Linked DNA regions of Homo sapiens: all the other regions are linked to region 1. The links come from fine-mapping of genetic effects on gene expression. A gene starts in region 1. Each other region holds a variant in brackets. All regions are shown on one strand. Distances are from middle to middle. Region 1 holds the start of ABCC5 (ATP binding cassette subfamily C member 5). Region 2 has its middle 31 kb from the start of MIR4448. Region 3 overlaps ABCC5 (ATP binding cassette subfamily C member 5). Region 4 overlaps ABCC5 (ATP binding cassette subfamily C member 5). Region 5 overlaps ABCC5 (ATP binding cassette subfamily C member 5).

Region 1 (5,103 bases):
GATTTCTTGCCTTTCAGAATTCTGGTTCAAGTACCCTAAGTTGATATAGCTGTTACTTATCTTTAAAAAAAAAAAAAAAGTCACCTTGTCCAATGACAAACTACACCATAAAGAACAGCGGCTCACCAAGCCAGAGTGCAGCAATCACGTCATTGAGACCTCATTAAGGCTAAACTATAAACAGACCTGGCATCTGCCAGTGTCCCCAGTGTTGAGCTGTAGCTGTAGATCAGAGTAACCTTCTTACGGGAATCACGAAATTCTAACCTTCCCCTTCAAGGGTTCCCTAGCTTAGCTGATTATCTGGAAGAGGAAAAGATTAGTACTACCTTTTTAAAAGGTGGGGGTTGGGGCGGTGAGCAGTTTGAAACAGAGGAGGTCACTGGAACTCATCCACAATATGAAATGCCACATCAAGAAGAACACGAACATAATCTTAATTATCTAAGCACCCATGATAACCAAAGATTCTTTCAACCACTTTTATTTCAAAGGATGAAGTAGAATCAGTGGAGCACAGGAGCAGAGAGAGGCAGGGACAAAACGACTTCCCTGTTATGACACAAATAATGACTGTTTTGTGCCTACAGTGACTGCTGTGGTAGACACTGCTAAACTATCCTAAGGGACTAAGTTATTCTATGTATGAAGGGTGTGGGGAACAGTGTTCCATTATCTCTAACACACTCATCTCTACTTTCCTGGAAAAAGAGGCACAATCAGGAGAGCAGGCAGGCCCAAAGTAGGCACAAAGTTACTGTCTGTGGCCTTGAACATAAGGACACCATCGTCTGTGTATCTGGAACATAAAAGAGGGCACCCCACGTGGAGGCCGGCGAAGAGCTGGGAATCCTGACAGGTTTGGAAAGAAACAAAGCCCCAGTCTGAAGCAAGCAAGCAAGCAAGGATGGATCCCCAGGCCAGCCATTTTACTGATACTATTTATATTTCCCTATCTTCTCGTGTCCTCCTTTAAAGTTGTTGGAATATCTTTTTTAAATGCTCACTTGCCTCAGCTATCAAGAGAGGAAGAAAGAGAAGGGATTTTTGTTTGTAAAAAACAAACCTGTTGTCCAGACATGTACAAGGGTAGAAGCAGAATAATCAACGTGGGAGAACCCCAAAGAAGTGCCCAATAGGGTTGAGGCCACTTAGTCAGCTGCCCTTTTTTACCAAGATTCTCTTTCCACTGATAAAAGTGTAGACACTCTCCCTGCACAATGATACTGATTCAACTGCATGGCAGGAGGAGAGTTGCACGGGATTACCAGACTGGTGTGTGCAAGCTGCAGTCATCCCAACACTCATGAGTAGGTTTCCATCACCTCCAGGCCCTCAAGCTGCACGAGGAAGACACCACGCTAAAGGGATACGTATTTACCACACCCACTGTAATCCACTTGTTGCGTCTCCAAGCAGCCTCACCTTTCATACACGCTGCGGACCACAGTAAAACCTAGCCATCTCCTCCTCCAAGACCTCCTGAAACTTTCCCCGTCGTTCCTGTGCCCACCTGCCTCCAGCCTCTCCGTCTGTGCAGAAACCAAATGGCCCCTGTGTGATAAACACAAAGCCACCCGCGGCTCTGTGTGGCAGAAGCGAAAAGAGCACTGGATGACCGTGGAGAGATCTGGGCTGCGTTCCCGGCACAGCCACGGCTTTGCTGCGCGTGCTTATGTCACGTACCTCCATTTACCCGCTTGCAAAAACGAAGGGGATGACTTACTTCGAAGGTCGCTGGCGGCTCCGCTGCGGGTTGAGCAGGGTGCCCCGAGCCACCCGCTGCACAGCCTCCCAGGTGGGCGTTTCTCTCAGACCCGCTTCGCCTGGGATGCCCGGGCCCTAGGGCGTTCCCACAGCCCGCTCCGGCCTGCCCAGGCGAGCGCGACCCACACCCACGGCCCGCGGGCGCAGCGCCCCCTGGCGGCCGCGGCCAGGGACGTAGCCCGCGTCCCTGCCCGCTCATCCCGATCCTACCTGCCTGTCTTCCAGCACACGACCCCGTCACCAGACCCCGGGCTCACAGGCCTAGGAGGCGGCGGCAGGAGACCAGGGGGAGGCCATACGCCGTTCCCCAAGTCTCCAGTGTCCCCCGAACTGCTCGCAGCCCTGGCCACATCCCGCCACGCCCCGAGGAAATGCAAAGGGGTGATCCCCGTGACAACCGAGCTGGAGGGCAGGGGTGCGGCAGCAGCCATCACCTACCTGCGCCCCTGCTCCAGGACAACCGCGCCAGCCGCTCAACCACGCTCCCGAGCATGAGCCCTGCAGCAAAACAAGCCTTTATAGCGGCATCGGCCGCCACACCGCGCAAGCGCGCTGCACAAAGCATTCCCAAGGCTGAAGGGAACTGTAGTCCTCCTTCCGAGTGCCCAGGGCTGCGGACGCGGCGAAGGACTACATTTCCCAGAAGCGCCGGTGACATCCCGGGGGCGGTGCGGGCTGCCCCTCTTCCCACCGAGCTCCCGGCTCTGTTCCATCCTTCCCCGTGCCTCTGCGAGACTGTCTGGAATCTTCTCAGGGGTCGTGTTCCCTGGGGGAGGCAGCCGGGAGGCTTAACCGTGGCCCTGTGTTCGCACACAGTGCTGTTCGTAGGCAGAGCAGTCCCACCCTGCGTGGCCGTGTAGCTGCCAGAAAAGATCGTGAAGGTCATCGTAGCCCGCGTCTAACCCGTTGAGAGTCGTCAGGCCGGCCAGCCCCAGTTCTTATCTGTTGTGGCAGATACGATTGCTTGCTCATGGTTCGACCCTGCAGTCTGCGCAGATACCGCCTTTCTCACTTTAACACCAACTGCCCATCAATGTCTCGCTGCCTGGTCTCTAGATAATAAAATGCCAGGATCACAGTCTTAGAAGTGGCAAGAGCCTTAGAAATGTTATGCTAACTCATCTTCTTCTTTTTATAAATGAAACTGAAGCTCCCAGAAAGATTGATCCCTTTATTTCTCTGTTTCATCGGTACCTTCAGCATCATTAAATAAAAGCCACTGTTGAGTTCTTCCCTACCTTGTATCCGATGCTTTACATACCATTCTTGTTTCCTTTAATCTCCATTACAGCCCTATGAGTAGGTATTATGAGTTTTTTTTTTTTTTTAAGGAGTCTGGCTCTGTTGCCCAGGCTGGAGTGCAATGGCGCGATCTCGGCTCACTGCAGCGTCCGCCTTCCGGGTTCAAGCAGTTCTCCTTGCCTCAGCCTCCCGAGTAGCTGGGATTACAGGCGTCCGCCACCACGCCCGGCTAATTTTCGTATTTTTTAAGTAGAGACAGGGTTTCGCCATATTGGCCAGGCTGGTCTCGAACTCCCGACCTCAGGTAATCCGCCCGCCTCGGCTTCCCAAAGTGCTGGGATTACAGGCGCGAGCCACCTCACCCCGCCGTATTTTTTTTTAATTCAAAGATTAAAAAAGAAGAAGAAGAAGAGGAAGAGGAAGAAGGAGAAGGTAAAGTGACTTGTCCATCTTTATAACAGCTAGCTAGTTAGCTAGTGTGAAGACACTACTGTATCGTAAAGCAGCATATTCTTGCGCACGGATTGATAGACCAATGCAATAGAATAAAGAGCCCCCAAACAGACTGGTGCATCCATGTAACTTGATCTGTGACAGAAAACCTTACGAATCCGTGGGGAAAGCAAGAAGAGTCAGTAAATAGTACTGGAACAATTGGTTATACATATGAAAAAACAATCAGGGATTACCGCTTCATACCACACAGAAAAAACCCATTTCAGGTAGATCAAACGCTTAAATGTGAAAGGGAAAACTTAAAAACTTTTAGAAGAAGATAGGAAATATCTTTATGAACTTGGGAGTAGGAAAGAACTTTTTAAACAAGAAACAAAGAATAAAGGAAGAAAGATTGATAATTTTTGCCATATTAAAAGATGGCATAAATTGAAAAGATAAACCACAAGTTATAACTGACAAAGTTTTTGAATAATAAATATTCAAAATAATTTCTAAGTTCAGTAAGAAACGGCAGATAACCCAATAGGAAAATAGGTAAATGACATGAACAGACAGCTCACAGAATAGGAAACTTGAGCAGCCACTCAAATATGAAAAGACACCCAATCTCATTCATAATCAGGGAAATTGATTTTTTTTTTTTTTTTTTTGAGACAGAGTCTTTCTCTGTCCCTCAGGTTGGAGTGCAGTGGTGCCACCTCAGCTCACTGCAACCTCCACCTCCAGAGTTCAAGTAATTCTCCTGCCTCAGCCTCTGGAGTAGCTGGGACTACAGACACCGGCCACCGCACCCAGCTGATTTTTGTATTTTTCGTAGAGATGGGGTTTCACCATATTGGCCAGGCTGGTCTTGAGCTCCTGACCTTGTGATCCATCCACCTAGGCCCCCCAAAGTGCTGGGATTACAGGCGTGAGCCAACACGCCTGGCCTGGAAATGTAAATTAAAATAGTAATGAGATACCACCTCACCAAAGATTCTAGTACCTTCCAACAATGCCTCAAACACTGTAACACCCAAAACTGCAGATCTGATATCATCATATTTTTTAAAAAGCTTCTAAATCCCGCTGAAATACTTCATATATGTTGATTATAGTTTGTTTTTTATTAAAAAAGAATAGATGAACACCAGACAGCCTTGGTGGCAGGCTTCAATACACTGTAGTACTGTCTTGGTCTGTCCAAGTATAGTCTGAGTGAAAGAATTATACTTACAAAATTACCCCCTCAAAATGTGTTTGTGTTGTGAACTGTTTAGAGGGGCGATACTTCCCAACCCTCAGGCAAGGGGGCTAGAGAATCTATGTTGCAGTGTAGAATTGTGTGTCTTTTCTTTTCTTTCTTTTCTTTTTTTTAGATCTCGGCTCACTGTAACCTCCACCTCCAGGGTTCAAGTGATTCTGATTCTCCTGCCTTAGCCTCCAGAGCAGCTGGGATCACAGGCATGTCCCACCACACCTGGCTAATTTTTGTATTTTTAGTAAAGACGGGGTTTCACCATATTGTCCAGGCTGGTCTCGAACTCCTGAGCTCAAGTGATCGGCCCACCTCAGCCTCCCAAAGTGCTGGGATTACAGGAGTGAGCTACCGCGCCCGGCCAGAATTGTGGGTATTTCTAAATAATATTTATGTTG
Region 2 (5,103 bases), 100 kb before region 1:
AAACAGTGGTTAAGGAATGCTGGATCAACAGCTTTAGCCATGGGCCTGTGCCCAGGCAGGGGCCGTTTCCCATAGCAGACTGACCCTCACTGTAGATCCCGCAACACCCCCTCCTGTGGATAGATCTCAGAACAAAAGAACACCCCTTTCCCCTTCTAGAGCGACCCAAACCCAGTACCCACTCCACACTCAGTGCCTGGAAGTTGCTCCGCCCCACACCCCCACTCCAGCAAGGTAGGCCCACCCCCTACTTCTCCCTGACTAGGAAAGGGAGGAGATAAAAATAAGGAGCTACAGAGACCACTAGAGGTGGAAGGAATGAGAACTAGGCAGAAGAGACCCCCCTCCAGTTACCTCCATGCACCTGAACACAGAAGGAGAATTCCATTCCTTGCGGTTGTGTTTAACTTGTCCAATGTGTCCCAGTGCCCATGGGAGTGAATGGGAACAAATACAGGGGGCTTGCCTGCCTCTAGACATTATGTGAAGGCCCCAAAGGACAGGAGCTATTTCTGGGGAGGGCTGGGAGACCCAGGATCCTCTAACTGAAGGAGGGGCAGACTCAGGGACCACATCCAGGCAAGCCAGGGCACGGGCCAGCGCTAGAGGACATAGCCCTGCTTTGCATATTTTATTATCAATAGTTCCTTCTTTCACTCTTGGTGTGACTCTATGACCAGTGGTTCTGCACATCCCCAGGTTTCGTAGATGAAGAAAGGATGACGTGCTGCCTGACAGCTTGCAATGAACTCAGCATCTAGAATTTTGCAGAGTGTTCCAGTGGAGTTCCCACGGGGAGCTGCTTTCCTTCAAGCCCAGCTTTGAGTAAGGGGAGCGGGGCAGTGGGACTCGCCACTGCCATGCTGTGCTCCAGCCAGGATGATCTCAGGGCACAGGGAGAGGCTTCGTGTCCGAAGAGTGTGGCAAAGGGCAGCCAACATCCTCCCCCTCCCTGCCCCCAACACACACACCCACAATCGCACCCCATCAAGGGCAGTAGAATTAGCCATCCAACCAGAATGATGTCTTTATTGTTCCCAGGATATTCATCTTATCCGAGAATGATTCATGGCAGCTATTATTTAAAATATTAAAAATATTCAAGGCTGGGCACAGTGACTCATGCCTGTAATCCCAGCACTTTGGGAGGCCGAGGCAGGTGGATCACCTGAGGTCAGGAGTTCGAGACCAGCCTGGCCGACATGGCAAAATCCCATCTCTACTGAAAATAAAGAAATTAGCCAGGCGTGGTGGCACGGGCCTGTAATCCCAGCTACATGGGAGGCTGAGGCAGAATTGCTTGAACTCGGGAGGTGGAGGTTGCAGTGAGCTAAAATCGTGCCACTGCACTCCAGCCTGGGAGACAGAGCGAGACTCCATTTCAATAAATGAATAAATAAATAATATTCAAGACGGTCAAAAGGAAAGATCAAAATATTATGAAGGATGAGGGAAACAAGCTGAGATAAACATACAGGGCCCTGAGCTTCCTGTCGGCTAAAATAAGAAGGAGGAAACAATGTGTTCCAGAATCCTCACTGAGAAGCAGAGAATTTTCCCGAGATCAGATTCTGAAAGGGATTTCTTGTGTGGACACAACTGCCAACAGAGATTTTTTTTTTTTTTTTTTTTTTTTTTTTTGAGACAGAGTTTCACTCTTGTTGCCCAGGCTGGAGTGCAGTGGCACAATCAACTCACTGCAACCTCTATTTTCCGGTTTCAAGTGGTTCTCCTGCCTCAGCCTCCCAAGTAGCTGGGATTACAGGTGCCTGCCCCCACGCCTGGCTAATTTTTGTATTTTGTATTTTCAGTAGAGACAGGGTTTCACCATGTTGGCCAGGCTGGTCTCGAACTCCTGACCTCATGATCTGCCCACCTTGGCTTCCCAAAGTGCTGGGTTACAGGTGTGAGCCACCACGCCTGGCCTGCCAACAGAGATTTTATGGAAGATGAAGTAGCAGGTTTCTTCATGTGCCCATTTCCGAGAGTGACTCC[A/G]GGACTCGCCAAGGGTATTGAAACTGAAGGAGTGGTAGTCTTTCTCCAAGTACAACACGGCTCGGCTGGGGATTGAAGGGTAGAACCTGATCATACGTAGGCATGGCGGGATGGCATGTATGTTCCCAAGGTGTCACTTCTCTTAGCCAAACATTGTTTTGCTTATTATCTAAGTATGAATGCCAGCGATTATATCAAATGGTAGGTGGCTGGGATCCAGCCCCTGTATTTTGATCAGCTGTCAGGATCCCAGAGAAAATATACACAGAGGCTGCTCTAGCAAAACCTTTCTGTTGACGACTTCACGCCTTTGGCACTGAGAGGCAGCGTGGTGGGCTAGTCCGGAGAGTCTGGTGCCTGAAGACTCCTGTGGCTGGAGGAGTTGCCCAGGGCCCAGAAACTAGCAGCCCCAGGCCCACATCCTTATTACAATGGACCTTTAGATCTTACCACATCCTAGGAAAGGAAGGGAGATCGGAGATAGGGAATACCAAGGACAAGAGAGAAAGGGTGTCTCTGAATAACCCAGGGCAGGACTGGCCAGGTGCCATCCCTGGACTCCTAGGTCATGACCGAGAAACTCAGAGGAGGAGAAAGGGTGAGAAAAAGTGAGCAAGTTACTTAAAGTTTCTCTTCTCCTTTGGACTATAATCTCCCTGTGTCTTGTTTCTGGTCTCCTGTGCCCAGCAGAAGGTATGGGACCTAGTGACTGTTCAATAAATAGTTTTTGGGAAAAGAGCCCGAGGGGGCTGGAGTCCAGGTATTGGGAGGCTGAGGGAAGAGGCAGTTGGATCAGTAAGTCTGGAAGAAGTGGGGAGCTAAAGTTCCCGGAGGGCAGGCCACTCTCAGAGGCCCATGGGAATGACATCAGATGGAGACTCCCAGAGTGGGCCTCACGGCACCTTTTTTCTCACCAGTGGTCAGAATGGCCCCAGGACTGCAGCCCACCAGATTCTTTGTCAAGGACACAAAAAATGAGTCAGAGAAGTCTCCCCCAGCCCCTAGCCCCGTGAACCAACCATTCCAGGCAACGTCAGTATCTCTGCCCCAACAGGTGTGTGCCCACGGTCCTAACTGCCTGGTGCTGGCCTGTCCTAGCTGGGTATGGAGCTCCCCTTTGAGAACAGGGCTGTGCCAGGTCTGCGGGAGACCAAGTACTAGCTCTGATGGTTCTCACTTGGACAGCAGCCAGCTTAGTCCTCCTAAGCTGAGTCCACCTGAGCAGGTAGAAGGGAGTTTGCCTGAGCCAAGGAAGAATGCTGAATTCAGGCCACAGGCAGAAAGAAACAGGACACAGAAAAGATTCCAGGAAAAGAGGAAATCTGCTCCCAGTACACACCACCTCCCTAGTGGAAGCAAAGAGGAAGAGGCAGAGTTCTAGAGCCATGTCCCAAATGAGGTGAGCAGGATCCAGGTTTTTCAGGTCCTAGTTATGGACTCACACTAGTCATGGAGTTAGAGCTGGAAGAAATCTTAGAGGCAATCTGATCTAGCACATGCATTTGATGAAATTGAATTTGCTGATGAAATTGAAGCTCAGGTCATGAGATGAGGAACAGCTTGAACTCTGGGAGCAGGCTGTTTGGGTTTGAATTCTGTGTGATTCACTTCATACTGGATATTGGCTTGAGACAAGTTAAATCTTCACGAGCCTTTCCTCATCAGCAAAATGTGCTTAATTTTAGCTACCTTGTAAAGTGGTTGAGAAAATCACGTAAGGCCATGCTAGAAGTACCTAGTACAGTGCTTAGCTTACAGGTGCCCCTGAGTTCTAGCCAAGAAAACGAGCACAGAAGCGATGTCTAATGTTTTCAGGCCTGTTTCATAACACTTTCTGCTCAACATTCTGTGCTCTCTTCTCTGATCAGCACAGTGGATCCAGCAGAGAAGCTCAAATCTAGAGGTTTGCAGGGTGACCAGGAGGGAGGGAGACTGGGTTCCTGAACGCACGGGCAGAACCTTCATTCCACCCCTCCACAGACCACACTGCTTTGCTACAGGAGTTTGGTTACTGTGGTAAACTGCTGAAAGTCTGGGCTTGTTTCTTACACCTGTTAGCCTACTCTACTTGGCAACAGAGAATTATGAGCTGGGAAAGCACAAAATGGCAAAATGGAAATTGCTTTTAAAAATCCAATTTAGGCTGGGCACAGTGACTCATGCCTGTAATCCCAGCAGTTTGAAGGGTCTCGTTCTGCTGACCTTGTTACCTTCTTGGAAGATAAATCTAGTGCCTCAGTAAAAGTGGTTACCGTTTAGATTGGAGCTGCCCAACAGAACTTCCTGCAATGATCGACACGTCCTATATCTGCACTGTACATTACTATGTTGTACAGGTCGCATACAGCTACTGAGCGCTTGAAATGTGACACTCTAGGAACTAAAGTTTTAACTTTAGAGTCAAGCTCCTGGGTTCTCACGACAGCACAGGTACTTTAGAAAAATTAGTATAATTTCTACTGATGGCCAGCAAACTAATACCAGTTTAAAAGCTTTCTTGGCTGCATTCAACACAATATAGTCAGAAACTTTAGAATGAGTACCCTTTGCTTTTTTTTTTTTTTTTTTTTTGAGACGGAGTCTCACTCTGTCGCCCAGGCTGGTGTGCAATGGCACGATCTCAGCTCACCGCAACCTCCACCTCCGAGTTCAAGTGATTCTCCTGCCTCAGCCTCCTGAGTAGCTGGGACTACAGGTGCCTGCCACCACACCAGGCTAATTTTTGTATTTTTAGTAGAGACGGGGTTACTAATTTTCAATGGGTGAATCTGAATGAATTGGCTGAAAGGGTAATTATATTGTTTGAATTGCTAAGAATCCTCGATAAACTATTCATTTTAAATACATCTCACCACGACCACCCACCTCACCACAACCACTCACCTTTCCACTCCCCACCCTCTTATGGGCAGCCAAGGAGCTTTATTTGGGGACCATGTCCAGGAACACAGGCAGCGGGACTAAGGCCCACAGAGATGATTCCAGGTGTTCAGGGCCCCATGGCCCTTGCAACCAACCAGCTTTGCTACCAGTCCTTCCCAGATGCAACTCCATTGCTGGATATGCAGGTCCCAAAGCCATTCAGGGATATCTCACTCCCTTCCCAGA
Region 3 (5,103 bases), 89 kb before region 1:
CAGAGTGAGACTCTGTCTCAAAAACAAAACAAAACAAAACAAAACCACGGATTTAATCAAATACTTGCCCCTACATGCTCTGTGACAGTGAGCATGTACAATTAATTCTTTTTTTCCCTTGAATCCAATATGGCTGGTAACATACTGGACAAAAGGACATTCTTTTCCTGTTTATAAAATGAAGGGGCTGGATTGGATGACCTTAAAGTCTCTTGCAATTTTAAAATCTATGTCGGCCAGACACGGTGGCTCACGCCTGTAATCCCAGCACTTTGGGAGGCCAAAGCGGGCAGATCACGAGGTCAAGAGATCGAGACTATCCTGGCCAACATGGTGAAACCCCATCTCTACTAAAAATGCAAAAATTAGCTGGGCATGGTGGCGCACGCCTGTAATCCCAGCTACTCGGGAGGCTGAGGCAGGAGAATCACTTGAACCTGGGAGGTGGAGGTTGCAGTGAGCCGAGATTTGGCCACTACACTCCAGCCTGGAGACAGAGCAAGACTCCGTCTCAAAAAAAAAAAAAATCTTCTATGTCTATGGTTTGCAGTCGTACAACTACTCAATGGCCAGAAACAAAAGTTGGTCTTGGATGAAGGTAAAAACAAAGCAACCCTGTTCTCCCTCCCCAGAACCAATATACCCAAATTGTGTCAGGGTTAGAGTTATCTCTGGTCATGCTCTTAGAAAGTGCCAACAGGGATCAGAGCCAGGAATACCTTTGGACCCCAGTGTGTCAGGGCAAGGCTGCACTAAAACATTCCCATTCTCTGCTGCTGCCAACCCCAAACTGCCTTACCTTACAGTGGCGGAGCAGGGCTCTAGCTATGCACAAGAGCTGCCGTTCCCCCACTGAGAAGTTATCCCCATTCTCCATCACTTCAGATTCAAGTTTCAGAGGTAGCTGAGCAATCTAGGGAGAAAGAAACTAGAGATCAGAGGGGTAAGAAACTAAGCTGAATTTCCTGAAAATCCAAGGACAGAAAGAAATGATTCTGAAAGCGATGAAAGAACTATTAGCCAAGAACCTGTCTCATCTGGAATGAAGGTGCAGGTGTACTGATCATGCGTGCTAGGACCCACTTCCAAGGCAGTCCCTGATTCCAATAGACTATTCTGTTAGCTTTATACCATTAAAACATCCCAGAAATCCCAACGCTTTCATGTCCCCAAAATCCAGTCACATAGTGGGCCTTAAGTTTTGGTTCTGAAAATATGGTCTTGCAATAGGAAATAGTATAGTAAGGAAAAGTACTCTCCTTCTGAAGTCCAAAGCCGTAGGCCCGTGCCTGTGAAACATTTTTTGTAAGCTGCAGAACTTATTCTTCAAATGAGAAGAATCCCGATAGAGCAGAGGAAAAAACAGAACTCATCTACTAATAGTTGAATTAGGGCAGGGGATCCTGGATCCTGACTCAACCCAGGCATAACAGAAGCCTCACCCTAGGCCAGTGGTATCAACCTGTAGACTGCAGCTGCTCGTGAGGGCCTGTGAGGGCCTACTGAGTTGTCCCAAAATGTCTGTGGTCCATGGTCCATATGCACACTGTGTGCTTTCTGCAGACTCAATATGTTATGTATCTTTTTTTTTTTTTTTTTGAGACAGAGTTTTGCTCTTGTTGCCCAGGCTGGAGTGCAGTGGTGCGCTCTCGCTCACTGCAACCTCTGTCTCCTGGGCTCAAGCGATTCTCCTGTCTCAGCCTCCTGAGTAGCTGGGATTACAGGTGCATGCCACCACACCCGGCTAATTTTTGTATTTTTAGTAGGGACAGGGTTTCATCATATTGGTCAGGCTGGTCTCGAACTCCTGACCTCAGGTGATCCACCTGCCTCGGCCTCCCAAAGTGCTGGGATTACAGGCGAGAGCCACTGCGCCCGGCCACGTTATATATCTTTTGCGTATATGTGGACGCTTCAAAGTATGTTACACTGTTATGACTAATAAATTAAAAGCATCACTTAATTCTAAGTAGTTGTCATTACTATCTTCAATCAATGGATAGTGCAAGGCCAATATGACCGTAGGCAGTGTGGGCGGTGGGGTTGAGAGGGATCAGCTTTTCCCAGGTATCTGAAAGACTTGGAGAGCCCTGCCACGAAGCCTTTGTCCACAGGCATCCTGGAGGCACGGCCAGAGCAGACGGGGTGTGGCAAGGGCACTGCTGTGCTTCCACCCTCACCATCTCAGCACGGCTTCCCCTAAGCTCTTCACTTACACATTCTTTCATGTGTGTCCTCTCCAGGGCATCCCAAATCTGGTCTTCAGTGTACTGGTTGAAGGGGTCCAAATTTGATCTAGGGAGAAACACAGGAATTTCTCAGTGGTCCCACCCTAAGCGACCCATTGGCAAAGGCTGTCTGTGGAAGATGTTTAACACACATGCATAGGGAGAGAAGACTCCAAACCCTGATGGTCACAGACGGCTCATTCCACAACCAGACAGATGGGAGCTCTGACAGCACACTGGGCCACCTCCTCAGCTCCATAAAACTTGATTTATTCTTTTACTATTTTTACTATGTAAATAATACTAGTTATAGAACAATTTATAAATGCAAATATCGGCAAATATCCTTCTAGATTTTTTCCTGTGCGTGTATTTGTTAAAATACATCTTTCGGCTGGGTGCAATGGCTCATGTTTGTAATCCCAGCACTTTGGGAGGCCGAGGCGGGTGGATTACTTGAGGTCAGGAGTTCAGGACCAGCCTGGCCAACATGGTGAATCCCTGTCTCTACTAAAAATACAAAAATTAGCCAGG[T/C]GTGGTGGTGGGCACCTGTAATCCCAGCTACTCAGAAAGCTGAGGCAGGAGAATTGCTTGAACCCAGGAGGCAGTGGTTGCAGTGAGCTGAGATCACACCACTGCACTCTAGCCTGGGCGACAGAGTGAGACTCCATCTCAATAAATAAAATAAAATAAAATAAAAAATAAATCTCTCCATACGTACAAACTTAGAAATGCACCCTCTTTCTCTTGGTTTACCTGGTTCACAACCCTGTAATTGAGTATGGGGCTCCAGGACAGCTGGCCTGACCAGGGAAAGAAACTGATCCAGTAGAAGGGAAGAGGAAGAAGGAGAGAAAGAATAAAGGACAAGTCAAGAAAAAGGAATTTTCCTGGCACAGAAGACCAGTTTGGGGACCATTTTTGCTTACTGTGCCAACAGTATCTACCTCAAGGAAATCAGAGTTGATACCAAAAGAACGAGACTAGAAATTTTTTTTTTTACAGGCGCATGCCACGTAATTTTTGTGTTTTTTGTAGAGATGGGGTTTTGCCATGTTGCCCAGGCTGGTCTCAAATTCCAGTGCTCAAGCTCAAGTGATGAGCCTACCTGGGCCTCCCAAAATGCTGGGATTACAGGCATGAGCCACTGTGCCCGGCCAGGACTAGAAATGTTTAGGACAGGAGAAAATTATCTTTGCCACTGAGGATGAGGGTGGAGAATTGGTGGTGGAACAGGTATTTGGTGGAAAACTGGGATGTTACAGTAATTTTGGACGGCTTGTCTTGATCTACACATAACATTTGGAGGTCTAGTAATCTGAAAAGTATATTTGCTTTGCTCATAAAATTATGCCTGGCATGTGGGAAACAGGAAACTCTCTGGGAGAAACATGGACTTTTACTCTATGCCACACACCTGTCTCCATATCTGGGGTTACTAATTACAGGCATGCAAATACAATCACGTCATTATCACAGAACTCTAGTGAGAGGACAGCAGGCCGGCACCGCCTCATTCCTGCTATCTGGGCATCTCTCGATCTCCTGGGAGATTCTGACCCGCCTTGCTCTCCAGCGCCTCTTGCCCTTTGCACGGCGTTTTTCCCGCTTGGAACATGCTCGCTTCTCACTACCCTTGGCCCAGGAAGTGTTGTTTAATATGGTACAGTTTAATGGGTTGACCTGTGTCTCCCCAAAAGACACCTAAGTACCTAAGAATGTGACCTTATTTGGAAATAGGGTAATTTGCAGATGTAATTAGTTAAGATGAGGTCATACCAGAGTAATAGAGAAGGGTGGGCCCTTAATCCCATATGACTGGTCCTTATGAGAGATGGCCACGTGAAGGCAGAGAAACACTGGGAGGGCATCATGTGACAATGGAGGCAGAGGCCAGAGGGATGCATCCAAAGCCAAGGAATGCCAAAGATGGCCACAACTACCAGAAGCTGGAAGAGGCAAGGAAGCGTCCTTCCCTATAGGGTTCAGTGGCAGCATGGCCCAAATGACACTTTGATTTTAGACTTCCAGCCCCCGGAACTGTGAGATAGTACATTTCTGTTGTTTGAAGCCATCCAGTTTGTGGCTTAAACTGTTTATGACAGCCCCAGGAAACACATACAGCAAGTAAGTCCATCAGATGCCTCTGGATCAAAGAGCAGGCATGGAGCCCCCTTTCATCCACAAGGATATGCTCCAGGGAGCCCCGGTGGATGCCTCAAACCACAAATAGTACTGAACCGTATAAATGCTATGTTTTTTTCCCCTATATATACATACCTATGATAAAGTTTAATTTATAAATTAGGCACAGTAAGAGATTAACAATAATGAAATCAAGCAATTATAACAATATGCTGTAATGAACATTATTTGACTGTGGTCTGTCTCTTGCAAAATATAGTATGTAATATTTTTGGACCCTGGTTGATCATGGGTAACTGAAACTGCAGAAAGTGAAACCATGGAGAAGCGAGAACTGCTGTACACAAAAGCGCGGTCTCCTGCCCACTGAGTAGCCGGCCCTATCAGATTTTCTATGGGCAAATACGACAACAGGCTTAACTTTTTTTTTTTTTTTTTTTTGAGACAGAATCTTGCTCTGTCACCCAGGCTGGAGTGCAGTGGCATGATCTCAGCTCACTGCAACCCCTGCCCTGCCCCGCCAGGTTCAAGCAATTCTCATGCCTCAGCCTCCCAAGTAGCTGGGACTACAGGTGTGCGCCACCACACCTGGCTAACTTTTGTATTTTTTGGTAGAGATAGGGTTTTGCCATGTTGGCCAGGCTGGTCTTGAACTCCAGGTCTCAGGTGATCCATCCGCCTTGGCTTCCCAAAGTGTTGGGATTACAGGCGTGAGCCACTGTGCCCAGCC
Region 4 (5,103 bases), 66 kb before region 1:
ACCACGGGAAGACTCCTGCGATCATTCCCACACAGAAGAACACCAGGATAACGTTCTGGATGAACATCTCGGCCTGGAACGGCAGCCGCACGTCAACTGTGGAAACAAATAAAGGAGCAAGTGTCAGATGGTTTGGAAAAATGGAACTGAAAATTGAAAAAAACAAAAAGGGGTTCCACAAACTCTCTATCTGAAGTTTGTGATGTTGTCTTTAAACAGTCTGATCAAAGAAAAATTTAGAAACCTGGATGCTCTGATTTTTTTTTTTCGTCTCAAGAAAATCCTCTTACTCCACTCCCTTTTCTTGGTTCCCTTCCTGCCCCACTGCTTTAAACATTTTCCCCCTTTACAAAGTAACTTATGCTTATTTTAAAATGTTTGGAAAATAAATATGTGAAGAAGAAAACAAAAACTATATTCTTACCAATACCAATGAACTGCTGTTAACATTTAAGACATTTTTTGTCTTGCAAAATTTTTAAACATACATAAAAATTAAAGGAAGAGCACAGACCCTTCAACAGTTATCAACTTTCATCTCTTTTTGGCTGTCTCCCCACCCCACCGCCTTTTTTCTTCTGGTTAAAGTATTTTCATGCAAATCCCAGACATGTTGCTATTATTTACTTTTTTTCTTTTTTCCATTCATGTGTGAGCACATGCGTGTGTGTTTAGCAGAAATGGGAACATGTTATGTATCAGTTCGAGTATCAGGGATAGTTCTGATTTCTTGTTACCTCTGGCCATGGGTTTACAATGGCCTATCAATGCCTGAAACAAACCCCTTCCATGAAGGCAGCTACAGTGCAGCAATTAAAAACATTAGCTTTGGGGTCAAAAAGATCTGGGTTCAATTTGCAGCTTTGTCACTCAATAGCTGTAGATCTTGGGCCAGTTCCTTGACCTTTCCAGATAGCAGCTTTCTCATTATTCAAGGAGTGAAACAACACCCGCCTGACAGGCCTGCTGCGGGGATTAAGGTAACATGCATAAAACACTGAGCATGCTGCTTGCTACACAGGAAGCCCCCTGTCAATGTCAGGGGCTTTACTGTTACTCTGAACTGTGGGGGTACAGTATTTCAGTTCTGGTGCAGGCACAGCCCATACAACAGCCAGAAAACCTGCCAGGTTGTAGGCATCCAGAAACCAATGCATTGCTTTAAAATCTGTGTGTGTTTCAGAATCTCAGATGCCTCTGTTCAAAGCCTTTCTGCTAACTCAATTCATTGAATTTATTTTCAGGTCAAACAAGACAGAAAATGCAGTTGCAATGTTCCTGGTGAAAACACCAGCAGTCACTGTGCTCTCAGGATCTACAGACAGACAGATCTGCACATTTGGAGAATCATCTAGAAGGCTGGAAGCACAGTGAGCTCCAGAGTATTAAAAAAAGGCTCAGTGAGAAATACCTTCATCCATGTCTTTGGAAAACCTGTTGAGAATCCTCCCTGTGGGGGTCGTGTCAAAAAACTTCATAGGGCTTCGAAGGATCCTTCGGAAAAGCTCGTCATGCAGCCGGGAGGAAGCTCGCAGCGTGCCCTGAGGAGCAGAGCACAGAGTGGTCAGGGCCCAGGGACGGCTCTGTTCCTACTGGTCCAGAGAACCGCTCCGCAGCACATCCACTCCCAAAGCGGGGAGGTGTGAGGGGTCAGGAGGGACAGGTGGCAAGTGAGAAAAGGTGGAGGCTAACGGAATATGAGTCATCTCAGCCAGGGCCATCCTGGTTAAGGGAGCTCCCCTACTCAGCATGAACTGAGAGACGCCACACCAAAGCCTGACCACAGGTCACCAGGGAGGAGGGCAGAGACCACCCACCAATGCATACCTTGACAAAGACAACTCCTCGAATGGCTTTCAGGATCAGCATGACTGCCATGGAGAGGGCGTAGATGCTGGCATAGTACTGCATATGAGGATTGTCCTTCATGCTGTCACTCACCGAGGTCTCGTTCCCTCGAGTCACAGTGGTGTTCTGTTTGAAGCCAAAGTTCTATGAGGCCAGACTCCTAACGACTGCCAAGAGCCCCTGCTCAGCGCCATTCTCAGCTCAAGGGCAGGGCAGGGTACAGGATAATGACCCACCCTGGGACCTGGTCATGGCTTTGTCCACCTCTTTTTTTTTTTTTTTTTTTTGAGACAGTGTCTCACTCTGTCACCCAGGCTGGAGTGCAGTGGCGCAATCATGGCTCACTGCACCCTCTGCCTCCTGAGTTCAAGAAATTCTCATGCCTCAGCCTCCCAAGTACGTGGGATTACAGGTGTGCACCACCATGCCCAGCTAATTTTTGTATTTTTAGTACAGACAGGGTTTTGCCATGTTGGCCATGCTGGTCTTGAACTCCTAGCCCCAAGTGATCCACCTGCCTTGGCCTCTCAAAGTGCTGGGATTACAGGCATGATCCACCACACCTAGCCCTCTTTCTCTCTATTCTAATGTCATATGGTTTGGCTTTGTGTCCCCACCCAAAGCTCATCTTGAATTGTAATTCCCAGGTGTTGAGGAAGGGACCCGGTGGGAGGTGACCGGATTGTGGGGTGGATTCCCCCATGCTATTCTTGTCGTGACAGTGAGTTCTCATGAGATCTGACAGTTTAAAAGTGTTTGACATGTCCTCCCGCACACGCTGTCTTGTCTCTCTTCTGCCACCTTGTGAAGAAGGTGCCTCCTTCTCCTTTGCCTTCCACCATGATTGTAAGTTTCCTGGGGCCTCCCCAGTTATGTGGAACTGTGAGTCAATTAACCCTCTTTCCTTTGTCAAGTACCCCGTCTTGGGTATTTCTCTGTAGCAGTGCAAAAATGGACTAATACACAACGGATGAGAACAGATAGCCTGCAGGTGTCCTACTGCACG[C/A]CCTACTGCCCTGTGGGTTGGTCAGCGTTTTTTTCCTTCTGGTGAGGCTACATTAGGGACTCATCTTTTCATCCTGGAAAAATCTCTCTTTACAGCTTCTTTTAAGTGAAAACTAGAACAGTTTCCCTAAGAATAGCCAGGGAATAGGGAGAAACGGCCACATTCTTAGACACAGAACTTTCCCATTTATGAGTAACCTTACCCCGCTTCCTTGCTTGATCCAGTAACTCAACCACCAGGTGCTGAAGGCGGTGCTGCCTACATTCAGCATGAAAAGGGCCATAATAACCAGGAATGCCAAGGGGCCCCCAGCAGCCTGGATGTAGACACCATATACTGACCAGGGCACTGAACCCTGCCCTTTCTCTTCCAGCTGCACAAGCTGCCCTAGGTAAGAAAAAAAGAAACATGGACTCAGAAGGGAAGAACTATTTCCATAAAACTAAGTCACCTGCAGAGCAACAGAATCGGACAACCGGCAGCTTCACAGGGGTCTAGATTAGATTTCCTCTTTGTCAGAAGCATTCATTCATCTATTTAACATTTACTGAGCACCTACCACAAACCAGACCCAGGATGAAGCCCAGGAGCAGCAAAGAGGATGAAGACCAGGTCCCCACCCCTAGGGACCTGGCTGAGGAGCCTGCCACAGACTGGTAGGACAGGCAGATCAATAATCACATAATTACAGTGAAATGTGCTCAATGTGATGATAGAGCTATACGCAGGGCAGCATGGGAACCCCTGGGAGGCATACTTGACCTATTTGGCTTAGGTGTGGGGTGGTTGGCAGGCATGTTTCAGGTAAGACTTTCTGTATTGCTTCTCAAAAGGTAAGCCACAGATGACCGGGTGGGGAAAGGAGAGAGCAGGCAGAGAAAACAACACAAGCACAGGCACGGGGTAGCAAAACACACCACCACAGTGATTCGGCACAGCTGGAACAGATGTGCACTTAAAGAATGGCAGGAGATGAGGCCGACTAAGCAGGCTGTGGTCACAGAAGAAAGGCTTTGAATTTTGGCCCCACAAAGAACTTCTCAACAGAAAGGGTGACAGGTGTGTCTGACTTCTGTTGGGCTAGGAAGGACCTGGGATGGCTGATATTGCCACACCAGCTGCCTCTGGGAGCGAGCAGCCTCTTTCATGCCTCCTGTGTTCCACACAAATAGCCTTTTCTGTATGTGCCCTATCAGGGAAAATATTTGAAAATGGAAGGTTACTGAAAGACTCCATGCAGGAAAGTTGGTTGGTCTCATGTTTTGTGTGTGTGTTTTTTTTTGAGATAGAGTCTCACTCTGTCGCCCAGGCTGGAGTGCAGTGGCGTGATCTCAGCTCACTGCAACCTCCGCCTTCCCGGGTTCAAGCAATTCTCCTGCCTTAGCCTCCCAAGTAGCTGGGATTATAGGCGCCCGCCACCACGCCTGGCTAATTTTTGTATTTTTAGTAGAGACGAGGTTTCACCATGTTGGCCAGGCTGGTCTCGAACTCCTGACCTCAGGTGATCTGCCTGCCTCAGCCTCCCAAAGTGCTGGGATTACAGGCATGAGCCACCGCACCTAGCTGGTCTCATGTTTTTAACTAGATCTCGCAGCTGACCGTGTGGAAGACAGGTTCAAAACGAGGCAGCTGTAACACTGTAGGTAAGAGATGATAAAGGCCTGAACTGGGGTTGTGATGGTGGGATGGAGTTTCGGGAGGTAAATTCAGTAGGACATAGTAACTGGCTGGCTGCTGGAGGAGAGAAAAGGTTCAAATATATTCCTGAGGATCTCCCTGGCGCACTCAGATTCTTAACACTAATATGAGAATACAGAATGTAAACCAGAAAGTACCTTGAGACGGGTCTCAATCAATTTAGGAGTTAATTTTGCCACGGTTAAGAATCATGACCAGTGACGCAGCCTCAGGAGGTCCTGAGAACAGGCCCAAGGCAGTTGGATTACAGCTTGGTTTTATGTTTTAGGGAGACATGAGACATCAATCAATATAAGTGGGGTAATCACTGGTTTGATCCGGAAAGGTGGGGCAACATGGGGCAGGGAGGTGCAGCTTAAAGGTCAAAGGTGAATTCAAAGATTTTCTGATTGGCAATTGGTTGAAAGGGTTAAGCTCTGCCTGAAGAGTTGAAATTAGCTTGAGTGGTGGGGGAGTGGTGGGGGACAGGGTGTGGACGCCAAGGTTCTTGTCATGTAGATGAAGCCTCCCAGTAGCAGACGTCAGAGAGAACAGATGTGAATGTCTCCTAT
Region 5 (5,103 bases), 41 kb before region 1:
ACTGGGTGTCCTGTGTCTGTATTTGCTAGAGCAAGCCACCCTATTCCACTGGTGACAATCAGTGCAGCTTCACACTGCCTTTCTACAGGTTATCAAATCAATAAATTACAGGTTACATAAATAAATTTTATATCTCTTTTCCTATTCTTTATGCATACTACCCAACAGGAAGCAACAAGTTCTCCTGCCATATGCACTTGCAGGGTAGGTGAAATAGAGAAAAGACTATACTTGCAAATCTGTCAGATCTCCAACTCCAATTTAAAAAAGAAAGAAAGAAAATGATGTAAAACAAGACACAGGGTGAAAAGCAGGGCTCTGCAACATCGTCAGTGAGTTTCAAGGTCTGTAAAATGAATCAAAGAAGCAAGTCTCATCCTTGTTATTCTATATTCCATCTTCTAAAAATGATGAGAGGGCAGATGCTTTTGGGGAGATACAATCCCAGGAACAGTTCTGTTGTTTTCAAAAGGCTGCCTTAGATGGTCCCCCAAGATTGAGGCAAACTTCCTTTAACGTACTCAGAAACATAATAAACAGTTGCCTTACACCTAAAAAACAGCCCCCCAACCCTCATAAAGTCAATGTAATTCTAATTAATAGACATCTGAAGATAAGAAGAAAGAACCGGCTTAGAGTTCGGGAGGAATTAAGTAATAAACACTCGTTATCTTTTTTTTTCTGAGACAGAGTCTCGCTGTGTTGCCCAGGCTGGAGTGCAGTGGCGCGATCTCGACTCATGGCAACCCCTACCTCCCAGGTTCAAGCGATTCTCCTGCCTCAGCCTCCCGAGTAGCTGGGACTACAGGCACACACCACCACACCTGGCTAATTTTTTGGATTTTTAGTAGAGACAGGGTTTTACCATGTTGGCCAGGCTGGTCTTGAACTCCTGACCTCAAGTGATCCAACCACCTCAGCCTCCCAAAGTGTTGGGATTACAGGCGTGAGCCACCAAGGCTGGCCATAAATACTTGTTATCTTGTGCCAAGCATCTAATTAAAAAAAGAATAACAAGGAAAAAAAGAGACTGAGACCACCAAGAGAAGTAAGATAGAAGGGGTCTAAAGTCTCATGGGGCATCAAATAGAGCTGTGGGTGGTGCTGCTTCTACTATTAATTCTGAGGCTTCCTGGAGAGAGGAGGGACCTATGATGTGAAAGCCACCTGCTAATCCAAGTCCTCACTAATAAGCAGGAGATGAGAGCCCTCGAAAAACAAGGGGAGGACCAACCTACACTACATGCCCTTACTTTATCCAAAGTGCTACCAAATCCATTCACTAACAAGAATATAGAAATGAACAGCAGGGAGAACTTATGGTCAAACATTTGCTTTCATCCACGACTGGTTATTGCGGATTCAGCAAAATAAAGCTCTGAGTCCCATTAGGCCATTTTTTTTCATATGACTCAGCTCTTGGTTTTCTAAGAAGTGGCCACGTTGGGGTGGGGGAGGGGCACATTCGAAGACTAGCTTTCTTCCTTTCTCTCTTCTCTCCTTCCTTCCTTCTCTCTCTTCCCTCCCTCCCTTCCTTTTTCTTTCTTCTCTTTTTGTAAGAAACAAACAAACAACAACAAAAAAAAACAAAAACACAGATAAGAGTCTCATTCTGTTGCCCAGGCTGGAGTGCAGTGCCATGATCATAACTCACTGCAGGCTCGACCTCCTGGGCTCAAGCAATCTTCCCACCTCAGCCCCCCGGGTAGCTAGGACTGTGGGCGCACACCACTGCACCTGGCTATTTTTTTATTTTTTTGTAGAGACGGGGTCTTGCTGTGTTGCCCAGGCTGGTCTTGAACTCCTGGGCTCAAGTGAGCCACCTGCCTCAGCCTCCCAAAGAGCTGGGATTACAGGTGTGAGCCACCACACCCAGCCAGGACTAGCTTTCTTGACCAAATAAAAGTCACCCGGTCAACTGTAAACAAGTAGAATACAAACAAATCTCGGGAACTGAGTTTCCATGTTTCTTAAGAAGAAAATCCAATTTGTTTTCTCCTGAACCTCCAAGATGATTATATTCATCCCTCAAACATGTGAGCTTCAAGCCTTCACATCACCAAAATTGCTTTCTTATTCCTCTCACTGGCCAATAAAGACAAGCAGGGACATAGGAGCTAATCTATGCAGTGGCAACATCAAGGAATTCCAGCCCACATGGCATCCCTTTTTTTGTTAAGTATTAACCACTATCAAATATCTATTTCTCTCCACCCTCCCAAATATACTCCCTTTTGTATCATGTATGTGTAGTATTCTGAAGGAACAAAGAACACAGCCAAGGTATGATCAACTAACCACCTGCAAGAAAAGAAGCTGAGACTTACTTAACTGCACTTCTCAACATGACCTAGTTTTATGACTATTTCCATGTAACTGCTTTCCCTGCATCGTGAGTAGCACCACAGGGCAGGAAAAAGAAAGTATCAAAAAGGATTCAGCATGTCAATCAATCAAAGTGACAGTAGCAAAGATCAAGGGGAAGATGCCCCACAGTGCTGGTCTTCTAGGTTTAAGCCACTTCAAGGCCCAGTGAGTTGCGACACATCCATGTCAGGCCCAGGTGGAAGGGGCTAGCTCTAAAGGGGAACTCTGCAATCCTGGGAGCCCAGATCATGGCCGTTCACAAAAGGTAAAAATTCACATTAATTAAAAAAGGTGACAAGTCTCATCCCTCAATTCAGTCTCCTCCACTGCCCCCTTTTTCTTACCAACTTGCCAAAAGGCCAAAGCCAAGCTTAAGCCCAGTGAGGCCAGCCTGGGTGGCCCCTTGAACAGAGCCAGCAGTTAGTTGTGTGGGGAGGGCTCCTGACACGGGGGCAGGGGAAGGAGCCACTTACCTTAAATCTGTCAACAGCCACTGAGGCTTCTGAGAGGGACTTTACTGAAAACGGTGTTACTTTCAAAGCAAAAGTCATGGAATTGAAGACTGTCACCACTGTGAAAGCCTGAAAATAGGAGAAGAGAAGAAACTGTGCCTAATGATGCTATGCAACTGAAGTAACCTGACACCATGAATTTCCTCTCAGGCGCTAGGAAGGCTGCAACTTCACGGTCAGCTGTTATTACAAGTCAATTACATTTTTTTTTTTTTGAGACGGAGTCTCGCTCTGTCGCCCAGGCTGGAGTGCAGTGACAC[G/A]ATCTTGGCTCACTGCAACTTCCACCTCCCAGGTTCAAGCAATTCTCCTGCCTCAGCCTCCCGAGTAGCTGGGATTACAGGCATGCACCACTATGCCCAGCTAATTTTTGTATTTTTAGTAGAGACAGGGTTTCACCATGTTGGCCAGGCTGGTCTCAAACTTCTGACCTCAAGTGATCCGCCCGCCTCGGCCTCCCAAAGTGCTGGGATTACAGGCGTGAGCCACCATGCCTGGCCACATTTTTTTTTAAGTAGAGTTTTTGAGACCTTCAATTAAAATTGTCAGTAAATATGAACCACAGGATGATCTGTAATTTCAGAATTAAACTCAAACTTATGTTGACTAAAAACAACTCATACACTATTTGTGCATAAGGGCTGGCTCCCCACTCTTCTGCTTCTCAGCTTAATCCCATGAATGAAAAAATACCTACTAATTCTTGGGGGAACCTCCAGGTCCAGTAAGGAGAGGACCACAGCATCATCTCCATATGTGGTATTTTTTTTTTGTTTGTTTGTTTGTTTTGTTTTGAGATGGAGTCTTGCTCTGTCCCCCAGGCTGGAGTGCAATGGCATGATCTTGGCTCACTGTAACCTCCACCACCTGGGTTCAAGTGATTTTCCTGCCTCAGCCTCCAGCAAATGTGGTATTTCTAAAATGTTCCCCATCCCTGAGGGTTCCCTGACCTGTGCTGCTGTCAGATCGAAGCCCAGGGTCATATGAACAGAGAAGGTCACCACGCTGGCAATCACCACCACAATGGGAGCCACACCCACAGTGATGCTCTGGAAGTACCCAGCTTTTTCCAATATCCGACGCTCCTCCTCGCGGATTTCTATGAATAAAAAGCAAGCCAATTTCAAAGCAAGTTAAAAGAAGCCTAGGGATGTTGTTCCTCCACCTCCAAACAAGACTCTGTAGGTCTCCAGCCACCCTTCAACACCTATGACTATCAACTCTACCACTAAAGCTGGTATAAAAGGCTGAGGTTTGAAATGGATCAAGTGACAGGAATGAATCTAACAGAAAGCAGTCACTATGTATGAACTCAATCATCATCTTCTATGATACCTTTTTCTGATTCTTCTTGTAAATTTCTTAGGTTGAGAAGGAATGAACACATTAATTGTATCTATAATTGGCAGTTGTGTTTGCTTACCTGGTTGTTGTTGACTTTTTGCCTAAGGAATTAATAGGAAAGACAACACAATGGCACTGGAGAATTAAAAAGGGAGGGACTAAGAGGCCAGGTGCGGTGGCTCATGCCTATAATCCCAGTACTTTGGGAGGCCCAAAGCAGGGGGAATCACCTGAGGTCAGGTGTTCGAGACCAGCCTGGCCAACACGGCAAAACCCCGTCCCTGCTAAAAATACAAAAATTAGCCGGGTGTGGTAGTACACGCCTATGATCCCAGCTACTTGGGAGGCTGAGGCCGGAGAATTGCCTGAACCTGGGAGGTGGAAGTTGCAGTGCACCGAGATTGCACCGCTGTATTCCAGACTGGGTGACAAAGCCAGGCCTTATCTCAAAAAAAAAAAAAAAAGGGGCAGTGGGGAGGGAACTAACATTTCCCAGAGTGCCTGCTGTATGTTGGCAGTGGGATAGAAGCTTCCATATAAAAATGCAGTAATGACAACCGGAAGAAGATAGGTGAAATACAATTTCTATAGGCAGAATGATTTTTCTTAAATATTTGCAAAATCAACCCCCATATTAGCAAAGCAACCATAGTGTACTGAAGACCGTGGAGCAGGAAGCAGAACAATAAGATACTTTTTTTTCAGACGAGGTCTCGCTCTGTTGCTCAGGCTGGAGTGCAGTGGCACAATCACGGCTCACCGCAGCCTCAACCTCCATGGCTCAAGTGATCCTCCCATCTTAGCCTCCCAAGTAGCTGGGACCACAGATGTGCACTACCATGCCCAGTTATGTTTTATTTTTTGTAGAGAGGAGGTCTCAGTA

What was found. PIP is the estimated chance that this variant, and not a neighbour inherited with it, causes the effect.
Region 2: its variant is fine-mapped to the expression of ABCC5 in whole blood (TOPMed, PIP 0.92).
Region 3: its variant is fine-mapped to the expression of ABCC5 in whole blood (TOPMed, PIP above 0.99).
Region 4: its variant is fine-mapped to the expression of ABCC5 in whole blood (TOPMed, PIP above 0.99).
Region 5: its variant is fine-mapped to the expression of ABCC5 in whole blood (TOPMed, PIP above 0.99).

Annotation. Positions count from the first base shown.
Region 1 is chr3:184,015,625-184,020,727 of GRCh38, forward strand. ABCC5 (ATP binding cassette subfamily C member 5) reads right to left here and starts at 2,260. Exons shown (of 30, transcript NM_005688.4): 1 at 2,206-2,260. RefSeq lists a silencer at 1,828-1,997 and an enhancer at 2,478-2,657.
Region 2 is chr3:183,914,809-183,919,911 of GRCh38, forward strand. No RefSeq gene overlaps it. Among named protein-coding and RNA genes, the nearest start is that of MIR4448, 31 kb to the left of the region's middle. The variant A/G (reference allele first, on the strand shown) is at 1,996.
Region 3 is chr3:183,926,531-183,931,633 of GRCh38, forward strand. It overlaps ABCC5 (ATP binding cassette subfamily C member 5), which reads right to left. Exons shown (of 30, transcript NM_005688.4): 27 at 2,217-2,295; 28 at 800-913. Among named protein-coding and RNA genes, the nearest start is that of MIR4448, 42 kb to the left of the region's middle. The variant T/C (reference allele first, on the strand shown) is at 2,763.
Region 4 is chr3:183,950,030-183,955,132 of GRCh38, forward strand. It overlaps ABCC5 (ATP binding cassette subfamily C member 5), which reads right to left. Exons shown (of 30, transcript NM_005688.4): 18 at 3,057-3,241; 19 at 1,828-1,974; 20 at 1,412-1,541; 21 at 1-96. Among named protein-coding and RNA genes, the nearest start is that of ABCC5-AS1, 54 kb to the right of the region's middle. The variant C/A (reference allele first, on the strand shown) is at 2,855.
Region 5 is chr3:183,974,677-183,979,779 of GRCh38, forward strand. ABCC5 (ATP binding cassette subfamily C member 5) reads right to left here. Exons shown (of 30, transcript NM_005688.4): 9 at 3,827-3,975; 10 at 2,841-2,948. Among named protein-coding and RNA genes, the nearest start is that of ABCC5-AS1, 29 kb to the right of the region's middle. The variant G/A (reference allele first, on the strand shown) is at 3,140.